3 linked regions of the Homo sapiens genome follow. The gene in region 1 interacts genetically with each later gene. Each region holds a gene or a part of one and is shown in the gene's direction. Other genes may lie near its edges. The genes, in order: RALGAPB, ATG7 and ACACA.

The links.
Region 2: of RALGAPB (region 1) and ATG7, changing one enhances a phenotype caused by changing the other (phenotypic enhancement), as found in Homo sapiens cells (one large-scale study listed by BioGRID).
Region 3: changes in RALGAPB (region 1) and ACACA together harm fitness more than expected from each alone (negative genetic interaction), as found in Homo sapiens cells (one large-scale study listed by BioGRID).

The regions. Positions count from the first base shown.
Region 1 is NC_000020.11:38,549,286-38,552,940, forward strand, and holds part of RALGAPB (ral GTPase-activating protein subunit beta), read left to right. Parts: intron 1-1,785; coding exon 1,786-1,938; intron 1,939-3,655. UniProt on the Homo sapiens protein: Non-catalytic subunit of the heterodimeric RalGAP1 and RalGAP2 complexes which act as GTPase activators for the Ras-like small GTPases RALA and RALB.
Region 2 is NC_000003.12:11,278,742-11,282,396, forward strand, and holds part of ATG7 (ubiquitin-like modifier-activating enzyme ATG7), read left to right. Parts: exon of another isoform or gene 1-79; intron 80-2,252; 5' UTR 2,253-2,361; intron 2,362-3,428; exon of another isoform or gene 3,429-3,451; 5' UTR 3,452-3,655. UniProt on the Homo sapiens protein: E1-like activating enzyme involved in the 2 ubiquitin-like systems required for cytoplasm to vacuole transport (Cvt) and autophagy.
Region 3 is NC_000017.11:37,256,816-37,260,470, reverse strand, and holds part of ACACA (acetyl-CoA carboxylase 1), read left to right. Parts: intron 1-940; coding exon 941-1,111; intron 1,112-2,097; coding exon 2,098-2,259; intron 2,260-2,604; coding exon 2,605-2,768; intron 2,769-3,655. UniProt on the Homo sapiens protein: Cytosolic enzyme that catalyzes the carboxylation of acetyl-CoA to malonyl-CoA, the first and rate-limiting step of de novo fatty acid biosynthesis.

The DNA.
Region 1 (3,655 bases):
GGTGTAATCATAGCTCACTGCAGCCTCAAGCTCCTGGGCTCCAGTGATCCTCTTGCCTCATCCTCCTGAGTAGCTGAGACTGTAGGCACATGCCATGGCACCCAGCTCATTTTTAAAATTTTTTGTAGAGATAGGGTCTTGCTTTGTTGCCCAGGCTGATCCCAAACTTCTGTCTTCAAGTGATCTTCCCACCTCAGCTTCCCAAAGTGTTAGGATTACAGATGTGAGCTGTCACACCCAGCCTAATTAAAAAAAAAAAAAAAAATATATATATATATACACACACACACACATACATATACACACACACACACACATATGTATGCTGTGTATAATTTAATGAAATCTTTTGGGGTGCAGTTTATTTTATTACATTTGTAATTATGTGAATAATACTTGAGAAGTTGGAAAAATTCAGATAACGAAGAAATTTTAAATCACCTTTACTCACTATCCAGAGGAATATAACCACTGCTAATATTTTATTGGATTTCCTTCCCTTTTTTTCTTTTCATACACAATAACACTTGAATAGAATTTGAGTCATTTTGTATACTGCTCTTTTCATTTATAACATTGTAAGCTTTTATTTCTGCTATTAAAAATATAAAATGTCCAACAATGATAGACTGGATTAAGAAAATGTGGCACATATACACCATGGAACACTATGCAGCCATAAAAAATGATGAGTTCATGTCCTTTGTAGGGACATGGATGAAATTGGAAATCATCATTCTCAGTAAACTATCGCAAGAACAAAAAACCAAACACCGCATATTCTCACTCATAGGTGGGAATTGAACAGTGGGAACACATGGACACAGGAGGGGGAACATCACACTCTGGGGCCTGTTGTCGGGTAGGGGGAGTGGGGAGGGATAGCAATGGGAGATATACCTAATGCTAGATGACGAGTTAGTGGGTGCAGCGCACCAGCATGTCACATGTATACATATTTAACTAACCTGCACATTATGCACATGTACCCTAAAACTTAAAGTATCATAATAAAAAAATGTGATTAAAAAAAATTTAAAATGTGACTTAATATTTCACTAGCATTTGAGAGACACCACAAAATTGGAGCATGTGCCTAAAATCATTTAATATCTTAGATGTCTCTGTTAGATGTGATGTGTTTATCACCCAGTCCTCCATTTTTTTGGAGGGGGCAGTACAGAGCACATCCTGTCATCAACTCTGTAAGCCAGTAAGTTAGCATTGAAGACTGAAGAGGAAGGGGACCAGGAAAGGAGCTAAAATTTGTTTAGGGTTCACCATGTACCCATATACATATTAAAGCATGGATTTGGAGCTGTGAAGACCTAGATTTGGTGCCCATACTCTCAATTAAGCCGTATTAAGATTCTTGTTAAAATCACTTTCTAGAGATGCCCAGTGAAGCCAAACTTGTCTTTAATTATATTGAATGATGTGAGAGCCCCTGGGGAAGAGAGTTTGAGTCTTAAAGCTCCAAAATGCTATACCCATTGGATAACCACTGAATGTGGGAGATTCAGGCCTGCAGCAGTAGAGGTCCACAGCCCATTTGTCAGTCATTAGATCTATAAGAAGTCGATGAATATTTTTAGAAAAATAGAGTACACAGGGGCACAGGCTGCTTCCCTTTGCTGTTATCTGTAGCATTTGCAGGTTCTGAGTGAGTTTTTGTGACATGTAATCCTAGGGAAACACAGGCATCTAAGAGACCAGGGAAATACATGTCATTACAGATGGGTATTGGACCCTGTGTAATAAACATAATGTTACTTGTTTTAACAGCTTTTTGTACCTGAACCTCGCCCAGTTCCTAAAAATGACGTTGGATTTAAATATTCTGTGAAACATCGGCCATTTCCTGAAGAGGTGGACAAGATTCCTTTTGTGAAAGCAGATCTCAGCATTCCAGATTTGCATGAAATAGTCACTGAAGAAGTAAGTACATTATTTTTAGCTGTTGTCAAGGGGATGAATAGAAACATTCTTACGACTTCCTTGGTCAAGACAATGCTTTTAGTGTTGTTGGAGATGATTTTTAAGATGACATGGGCCTCCATCATCCAGGAGGTTGCCATGTTTAAGACGAATATAGATTGTGGCTGATCGAAAGGAACTGCATATCTCTTAGAGGTGTTGCTGGGCTGCCTGGCTGTTCGTGGTAGGTTTCAGTACTGTAGTGACATGATCAGACTCTGGTAGTAGAGTTATTTGGAAAAGGAAGACCAGTTCAGAGACTATTATGAGAATCTAAGTCTTTATAAGAAAGGAAGGACTATTTCACTCATATGGAATTTTAATATATAAAATGTATTGTGGAGGTAGATCCAAGCAGTCTTGAATTGGTGAGGGAAGGAAAAGAGCCAAAGAATTTCAGATTTTGAGCTTGAGTGACAAAGAGATATCAGTGCCATTTACAGAAATGCAGACATTAGGAAGAGGATAGATTTGGGAAGATGGGAAAAATTTATTTGGCTTTGGATTAATTTAGAGAGTTAATTAAGATAACTGTCTCTTAGGTCAAGGGAGAAGAATTTTAAGAAGTCGGGGACAGAAGTATGTCAGGACATGAGAGAACAGAAGAGCAGGAATGGAGGAAGGGCTACACTCTCCAATGCTGGAGAGACCAGGGAGAAGAAGGAATAGAAAAAGTCCCCTGAATTTTGGCATGAAATTTAGGTGACCTTTGAGAACAGGTGTGTACAGTAGGAGGGATAATTCAAAGGGCTGGGGAGTGAATGTATTGAGGGACAGGCAGTGAATAGAAACTACACTGTTAACAGTAAAGGCAAGGGTACAGAATGGGTAATATTATAGCTTAAGGAAATGGCCTCGTTAAGGAAAGAAAAGGCTGATTTTTTTTTTTTTTTCTGAGATGGAGTTTCGCTCTTGTTGCCCAGACTAGAGTACAGTTGTGCATTCTCAGCTCACTGCAATCTCCGCCTCCCGGGTTCAAGTGATTCTCCTACCTCAGCCTCCCAAGTAGCTGTGATTACAGGCGCATGCCACCATGCCTGGCCAATTTTTGTATTTTTAGTAGAGACGGGATTTCACCATGTTGGCCAAGCCGGTCTCGAACTCCTGACCTCAGGTGATCCACCCTCCTTTGCCTCCCCTCAAAGTGCTGAGAATTACAGGTGTAAGCCATCGCACCCGGCCAGAAAAGGCTAGTTTTTAAATATTTTTTTACATTCAAGGATGTGAGGATTATGAACATGCTTATAGATTGAAAGGAAGAAACCAGTAGAGAGGAGTCTGGCTAACACTGTAAGATGGGCAGTGGGACTTACAAGTAATAGAGGCAGTAGGGTCAAGAGTCTAGTCTAGAAAAGAGATGCTTCTAAGACAGAAGGAGAGAGTAGGTGAAGGTTCAGAGACATTTAGAGAGGAAAGGAGGGAAATTGAAGAAGTTTATGAAAATTTTAATCCTGGTTCTTGGCAGTGTAATAGGGGATCCCAGACAGTTCTTAAGAATTGCCAGGCAGTGCAGCTGAGGTTAAGTAGCATTATCTATAGTGAAGTTATTTAACTCACTCTGCTGACTTTCTTCAAAAGTCCTTGGGATCTGGAAGCATAAGTAAAGAATTTGACTGGTGTGGAGATTGACAGGTGTGGAAATTTGGAAGGAGGTTCAACACAGCCATTTAATGTGCTT
Region 2 (3,655 bases), on another chromosome or scaffold:
AAAATGAGAAGCTGACATGGTTCCTTTCTCATAGAATTTTTATTCTACTGAGGAGGATAACTGCATACGTGCTATGAAGGTAAGGTAGTTGGTGCTCTTTGAGGACTAGAATACAGGAGGATCGACCTAATCCAGAGCTGAGGGAGTCAGGGAAGGCTTCCCTCAGAAGTGATGATTGAGCTGTGATTTGAAGTGAGCAAAGAAATTCACTAGATGATGGGTATGTGGAGGTGGCCAAGAAAATTCTAAGCTTATGCAGAGGCCATGGGGTGTTTCTGCAGCTGATGATGTGGAGCTGAGTCAGCTTCCTCCCTTTGCCTGGAGAGTCCCCACTCCCTACCTCTAGCCTCCTCATCCAGGGGTCCTTGCATGGGGCTAGTGCTGTCATCTAACCCTCCCTTTCTCAACCATCAGGGGTGGGTTTAGAAGTTTGTGGAGCTGTTTTATTTTGCTTTGTTTTGTGACATTGACCAGAGGGCATTACTGCATTTATTGAGAGAGAGCCAGAGATGCTCAACATTCTGCAGTGTGCAGGGATAGCTCTAAACAAAAAAGAATTGTTCCATCCAGCATGCCAGTAGGGCCCCTGTTGAGAATCTACTTGGATGTTCTTAAAACCTTGGGTTAAGGGTTTCTATAGGATATTCTTAAAACCTTGGCTTGGCTGGGTGTGGTGGCTCACGCCTGTAATCCCAGCACTTTGGGAGGCCGAGGCGGGTGGATCACAAGGTCAGGAGTTCGAGACCAACCTGACCAACATAGTGAAACCTTGTCTCTACTAAAAATACAAAAATTAGCCAGGCATGGTGGCGGGTGCCTGTAATCCCAGCTACTCAGGAGGCTAAGGCAGGAGAATCGCTTGAACCCGGGAGGCAGAGGTTGCAGTGAAGCCGAAATTGAGCCACCTCCCTCCAGCCTGGGTGACAGAGCAAGACTCTGTCTCAAGACTCCGTCTCAAAAAACAAAAAATAAAAAGCAAACAAACAAAAAAACCCCACCTTGGCTTAAGGGTTTCTATAGGAAACACTGTTGCCTCATCAGTCTAATTTAGATATCCCTCCTCCTATAACATTCTGTACAAACGCCAGGCTATACTGTATTTGTTTTACCTCCAAATTGCTATACTCCGATTCCTCTTCTGTTTTGTTGTCTGTTTTGGCTTCAAAATTGTTAGCTCTTTAAAGGTGGGGACCATAGTTTTTTTTTTTTTTGCCATTGAACCCTGAAATGTAGCACAGGGACAAGTATGTAACATAACTGTTTATTGAAGAAATAACTAATGGAAGCCCCAATTTCATTTCTTTTCTTTTCTTTTTTTTTTTTGAGACAGAGTCTTGCTGTGTCACCCAGGCTGGAGTGCAGTAGTGCTATCTCAGCTGACTGCAACCTGCGCCTCCCGGGTTCAAGCAATTCTCAAGCTTCAGCCTTCCGAGTAGCTGGGATTACAGGCGCCTGCCACCATGCCCGGCCCTTTTTTTGTATTTTTAGTAGAGACGGGATTTCGCCATGTTGGCCGGGCATGTTATTGGTAAACAATATGATATTAGTCCTGCTTTTTGAGTGTCTCCTATGGGCCAGATGTATGCATTTTCTAGTTGAATCTTCACACTAATTCTGCACAGTAGGTGGTATCCCCATCTAACAGAAGAGGAAACAGACTCGGAGAAGTTGAATGACTTGTCCAAGGTGGTGTGGCTAGAAAGTAGCAGAGACAGGATTTGAACTCAGGTCTCTCTGGCTCATGAACCTATGCCCTTTCCAGTCTAGCAGACCATCTGCCTTGTCCAGTTGTTTTCTTGAACTTAGATTTAGGGCCCTAGATTTACCTCTATGAAATTTCAAATCTTGTTAAAATAGGCCTGCCATTCCAGATGGTTGGAATCTTTTTTTATCCTGAATTTTAGTCACTTGTATTGCCTGTTTCTTCTTTTGTCATGAAATTGATAAGCAAATCTATATCATTATCCAAGTTATTGGTAAAATATGGTAATAAGAATACTTTATTGAATATGTTTATTTGCCTATTCCCCCTGCTCTTAGCCCCAGCACAGGGTTCAGTGCACATGAAATACTTAGTAAATGTTGATAAATATTCATTCATGTGGATAAATAAAATAAATTGGACAGGCCCAGAGACTAAGCCAAAGACGTACTGCTATTAGCTCCTTTCTAATTAACATTAATTAATTCAGTAACCAAGATCCTTTGAATAAGATTATTTTACCAGTTCTTAATCCCTCTAATTATGTCAGGATCCAATTCCTGTATCTTCACCTTGTCTACCGGGATTTCTAGAGCAGCCTTGTGAGAGACATTTCTGAGACCTGTATGTCCTGCGTCTATGATTCTTCCCTGATCAAGGTAGGAATGCAGTTACTCTGTCATGACTTTTTCTTAGAGAAACCATATTGGCCTCTTGTGATTACTTAGGGCTGCCTCATACAGTTATGCAGGCTGTGCACTGCACAAGAGGCCACATCAAAGGGGGTTCCATTTATATCATAGGTATCATGGGTGCATTTTTGTAATGACAGTGGCAGAGAAGGCTACCATGTCTTGAGCTAATCTAATCAGTATATTACAACATTTCTCTAACTAAAGGAAGTAAAATCTTGAAGCAGAGGTGTAATTTTCTGATTGTACAAAGGTGCTAAGTGGACTAGAGTGGCCCATATGGGCCTTTCCTGGGAGCAAAACTTCTGTCCAGTGGTCTTTAGAACCCATCTTTATTCTTATCTTTGAAAAATCAGGCCGGGTGTGGTGGCTCACGCCTATAATCCCAGTACTTTGGGAGGCTGAGGCAGGTGGATCACCTGAGGTCAGGAGTTCGAAACCAGCCTGGCCAATATAGTGAAACCCTATCTCTACTAAAAATACAAAAAATTACCTGGGCGTAGTGGCGGGCGCCCATAATCCCAGCTACTTGGGAGGCTGAGGCAGGAGAATTGCTTGAACGTGGGAGGCAGAGGTTGCAGTGAGCCGAGATCGTGCCATTGCACTCTAACCTGGGCAACAAGAGCGAAACTCCATCTCAAAAAAAAAAAAAAAAAGAGAAAAGAAACAAAGAAAAATCAAACATTTTGAAAATCGGAAATCAGGCCTTTGCTTGGCCCAGTTTTAAAGTACTTCTCCCGTTTCTCAGGATTCTTTAAACATACCAGAAATGAAAACCACAGAGATGTAATTATTTAGAAGCAAGCCTTCATAACTCAGCCAGCTTTTAGGAAACCATCATAGATTTTAGTTGTTGGTTGGCATAGGGCTCCACAGTGATTTAGACAAATCCAGGTGGGTGTCTCTCAGATGAACAGAGAAATGGGCAACACTGTTGATCAGTGGAGGTAACAAAAGGACTCAGAAGGAGGCACACTGCCCTCCATCTTCCTGGCATTATTGCTTCCTCTCTCCTCTTTCCCACATTTTCTCAGCTGTCACTGTCCCTCCCATGTAGGCTTCTCAAACCCCATAATGCTGGTATCCAGTGCATCCGTTCTCAAAAACTGAAGCTGATGGACACCAGATTGCATGTGAAGGTGAAGGATATTATAGCAGAAGGAAACCAAAATAAAAGAAAAACAGCTCCTGGAAGTAACCAATGAGAAGGACAGATAAGAGTTTGAAGACTGTGGATGTGACTGCTTGTTCCCTGGTTGAC
Region 3 (3,655 bases), on another chromosome or scaffold:
TTAGCCTGACATGGTGGCATGTGCCTGTGATCCCAGCTACTCAGGAGGCTGAGGTAGGAGAATCACTTGAATCCGAGAGGCGGAGGTTACAGTGAGCCGAGATTGCGCCACTGTGCTCCATCCTGGGTGGGTGACAAAGCGAGACTCCATCTCCAAAAAAAAAAAAAAAAAAAATATATATATATATATATATATATATATATATATATATATATATATATGACTTGGGAGTTATGCATATCACTTACCAATGCTGGTGTCCTGTTTGTCAAAACTTAGCCACTAACCAGGCCAGGCATGGTGGCTCACGCCTGTAATCCCAGCACTTTGGTAGGCCAAGGCGAGTAGATCACTTGAGGTCAGGAGTTTGAGACCAGGCTGGCCAACATGGGGAAACCCCATCTCTACCAAAAATACAAAAATTAGCCAGGCATGGTGGCGCATGCCTGTAATCTCAGCTACTTGGGGGGCTGAGGCAGGAGAATCACTTGAACCCGGGAGGCAGAGTTTGCAGTGAGCCACGAGATTGTGCCACTGGACTCCAGCCCAGGAGACAGAGTGAGACTCTGTCTCAAAAAAAAAAAAAAAAATCTAGTCTCTAACTAGTTAGCTATGTTTCTAGGAAGAAGAGGAGCATATTGGAAATACTGGAAACTGGACAAGAGTCTGTCCCCATGTTTTTTTGTCTGCATGCATTTATGTCTGGTGGGGTGAGGTTGCTTTTGATGCAAAGTGAAAAATGCTCTTTTCTCCCGATTTTTCATTGAGTTTTTCATCCTTGTCCAGGGATATTGTATAATAATCAGAAATGTGCTCTCATGTGGCTAAAAGCTTTTGATGGCTCTTATACACACTGAACAGTTGAGTCAGTGAGAGGCTGTAGTGGTCTAGCAGTTGGATAAGGTGAGATACTTATGTTTGCTTATCTCTCTTCTTTGAGTGTGCGGTGAAACTTGCCAAAATGGTGGGTTATGTGAGTGCTGGGACTGTGGAATACCTGTACAGCCAGGATGGCAGCTTCTACTTTCTGGAATTGAATCCTCGGCTGCAGGTAGAGCACCCTTGTACAGAGATGGTGGCTGATGTCAATCTCCCTGCAGCACAGCTCCAGGTGAGTCTCCCTGATCTGGGTTGCAGAGCCTAGAAAAGTCAGAGAGGCCTGAAAAATGGGTTTAACCAGTGTGTGATAAGAGAAAAGCACCTCCTATCTGAGTCACACCTAATGGTCATTTCTCTTTCACCCTGTATGTGTTATGCATGTGTGGTTTGGTTTTCCTGATGTAGTACAGACATAGGAATGTTATTTTTTCTAGCCAGACACATCTGATATAATGTGTCATGTTTTAGAAATAAATGTTAATAATGTATGCTTTATTCAATTATTTAGCTATAGTAAACTTCACAACTTTGTATTATAATTATTCCCTACTCATTTTTGTTTTTTTACTAGTGTTCTTTATTGAAATAATTCTGCATCAGAGATTAGTGGTTGAAGTTTTTCCTTACAAGAGTGTGGTAGCACACATATATTTTTATAATTTGTAAAGTGCTTGCTGTCAATATTATTGTCTTCTCTCAGCCCAGGAAACAAATATTATGGAAAGCAGTAATAGTTAATGATAAGGCTTGATATTATTTTTATCTAACATTTGCCCACATCGAGAACACCTTCTGGGTTCCTATTAAAGACTAAAGATTTACTTACTTCCTCCAGTGGTTTGCAGGGATGGAAGAGATAATTATGACACAATTAAGACTTTCTAGCTGTCTGTTTTTGGATGGCTATTAACATTTACTCCTCTGTTGGATATTTTCATTCTTATTACGTGATGGAGAAATGACAACAGGGGAACTGGTGTCTGTTGCATTAGGAATGTGGGGACTTCTTTAGAAGTGGAGAATATTCTAACTACTTATCTGTAGTGATATATTGTATTTCAAGCAACTTAGAGTTGATGATTGTAGAATACAGGTTATAAAAATAGAATGTTTTAGGGAGTGGCTCCAAAAATAAAAATATTTTAGGTTATCTGATAGCCTCTACACTTTAAGGGAAGTAACTGAAAAATTAAAGATGTGTGTTTTATTACCTTTCAGATTGCCATGGGGATTCCTCTATATAGAATCAAGGATATCCGTATGATGTATGGGGTATCTCCCTGGGGTGATTCTCCCATTGATTTTGAAGATTCTGCACACGTTCCTTGTCCAAGGGGCCATGTTATTGCTGCTCGGATCACTAGTGAAAATCCAGATGAGGTAACCCATCACTTAAAAGGTTTATACCTCCTTTTAATGAACTTTAATGTTAAGATAGTATCTGAAAGTATACTTCTGAAATATCTTGGGACTTCCTCTGGAGTGGGAAACATAGAGGTTTCTCAGAGCAGATAAGTAAATGGTTGTTGCTTCATTGGTTACTTAATCCCACTTAAGTCACTGTAGAGTCTTCAGTGGGTCTGTGGCACTGGGTCTTGGCCTTTATCATTTTTGTGTGTCTTCTCTGCTTCTGTGTGTGATTAACAGAGAACTTAAACAATGAATATATAAATCTTCTCTTCCTTCGAAACATAATATGGTCTCTCATTCTTTATTCTCTAACAGGGTTTTAAGCCCAGCTCAGGAACAGTTCAGGAGCTAAATTTCCGCAGCAATAAGAATGTTTGGGGATATTTCAGTGTTGCTGCTGCAGGGGGACTTCATGAATTTGCTGATTCTCAGTTTGGTCACTGCTTTTCTTGGGGAGAAAACAGAGAAGAGGCAATTTCGTGAGTATAATAGCATTTGATTGCATTTTACAAAATAAATTTGTGCTAATCTTAAGTGAAGGTGTGAGCATGGGAATAGGAATCATCTGCTGTCAAAGTAATAATATGAACAACCTTTTTGAAGAAATTTTGAATATCTTTAATTACACTTGCATTCATGTTGTATTAAATTATGCAGTGCTTGGCAGATGTTTTTCTGTTTGTTGTTCTGAGCCTTTTGAAGTATTTTTCCTTTCAAATATTTTTGATAAATGTATAAAATTGATTGCTTTAAAGGTATCTTATTTTTCCACAGGAACAGTATTGTTATTGAGGGGAGGTAGATTCTTGGCCAAGAACTAGGTATCAAATAAATCATAGACTTTTATTTTATTTTTTTCTTGTGAGAAGACTTAAAATCTATTAGCAATTTTCAAGTACACAATCTATTGTTATGAGCCATAGTCACCATGATGTACTCTTATAGTTATTTAAAATAATAAAATTATACTGCTCATATTATGAAAAGGACATAAAGAAACTGTCTACATTGCTAATACAAGAGACCTTAGCATGCTGTATATAACAGCTTATGCAAATATAACTGCTATATCATAAATGTTAGATAATATTCTGTTAATCATAAACAATGAATATTAAATTAACAGCACTTTTGCTTGCCTAAAACATAGGGCTGAAGGAGGTAATTTTAACAGCTTAGATCTTTTGGAATATCTATCTAAAATTGAAACTTGAACTAGTTCTTTTCTGTTTTTTAATGGTTTATTGCCTTGTATCAAACATTTAATACCATTCCCTTTACCTTTGTACTGTACATGGAGTAGGTAATTAATAAGTGTTTATTAGTATTAATTACTAATAAATAGCATTTGTTTATTAGTAATTAA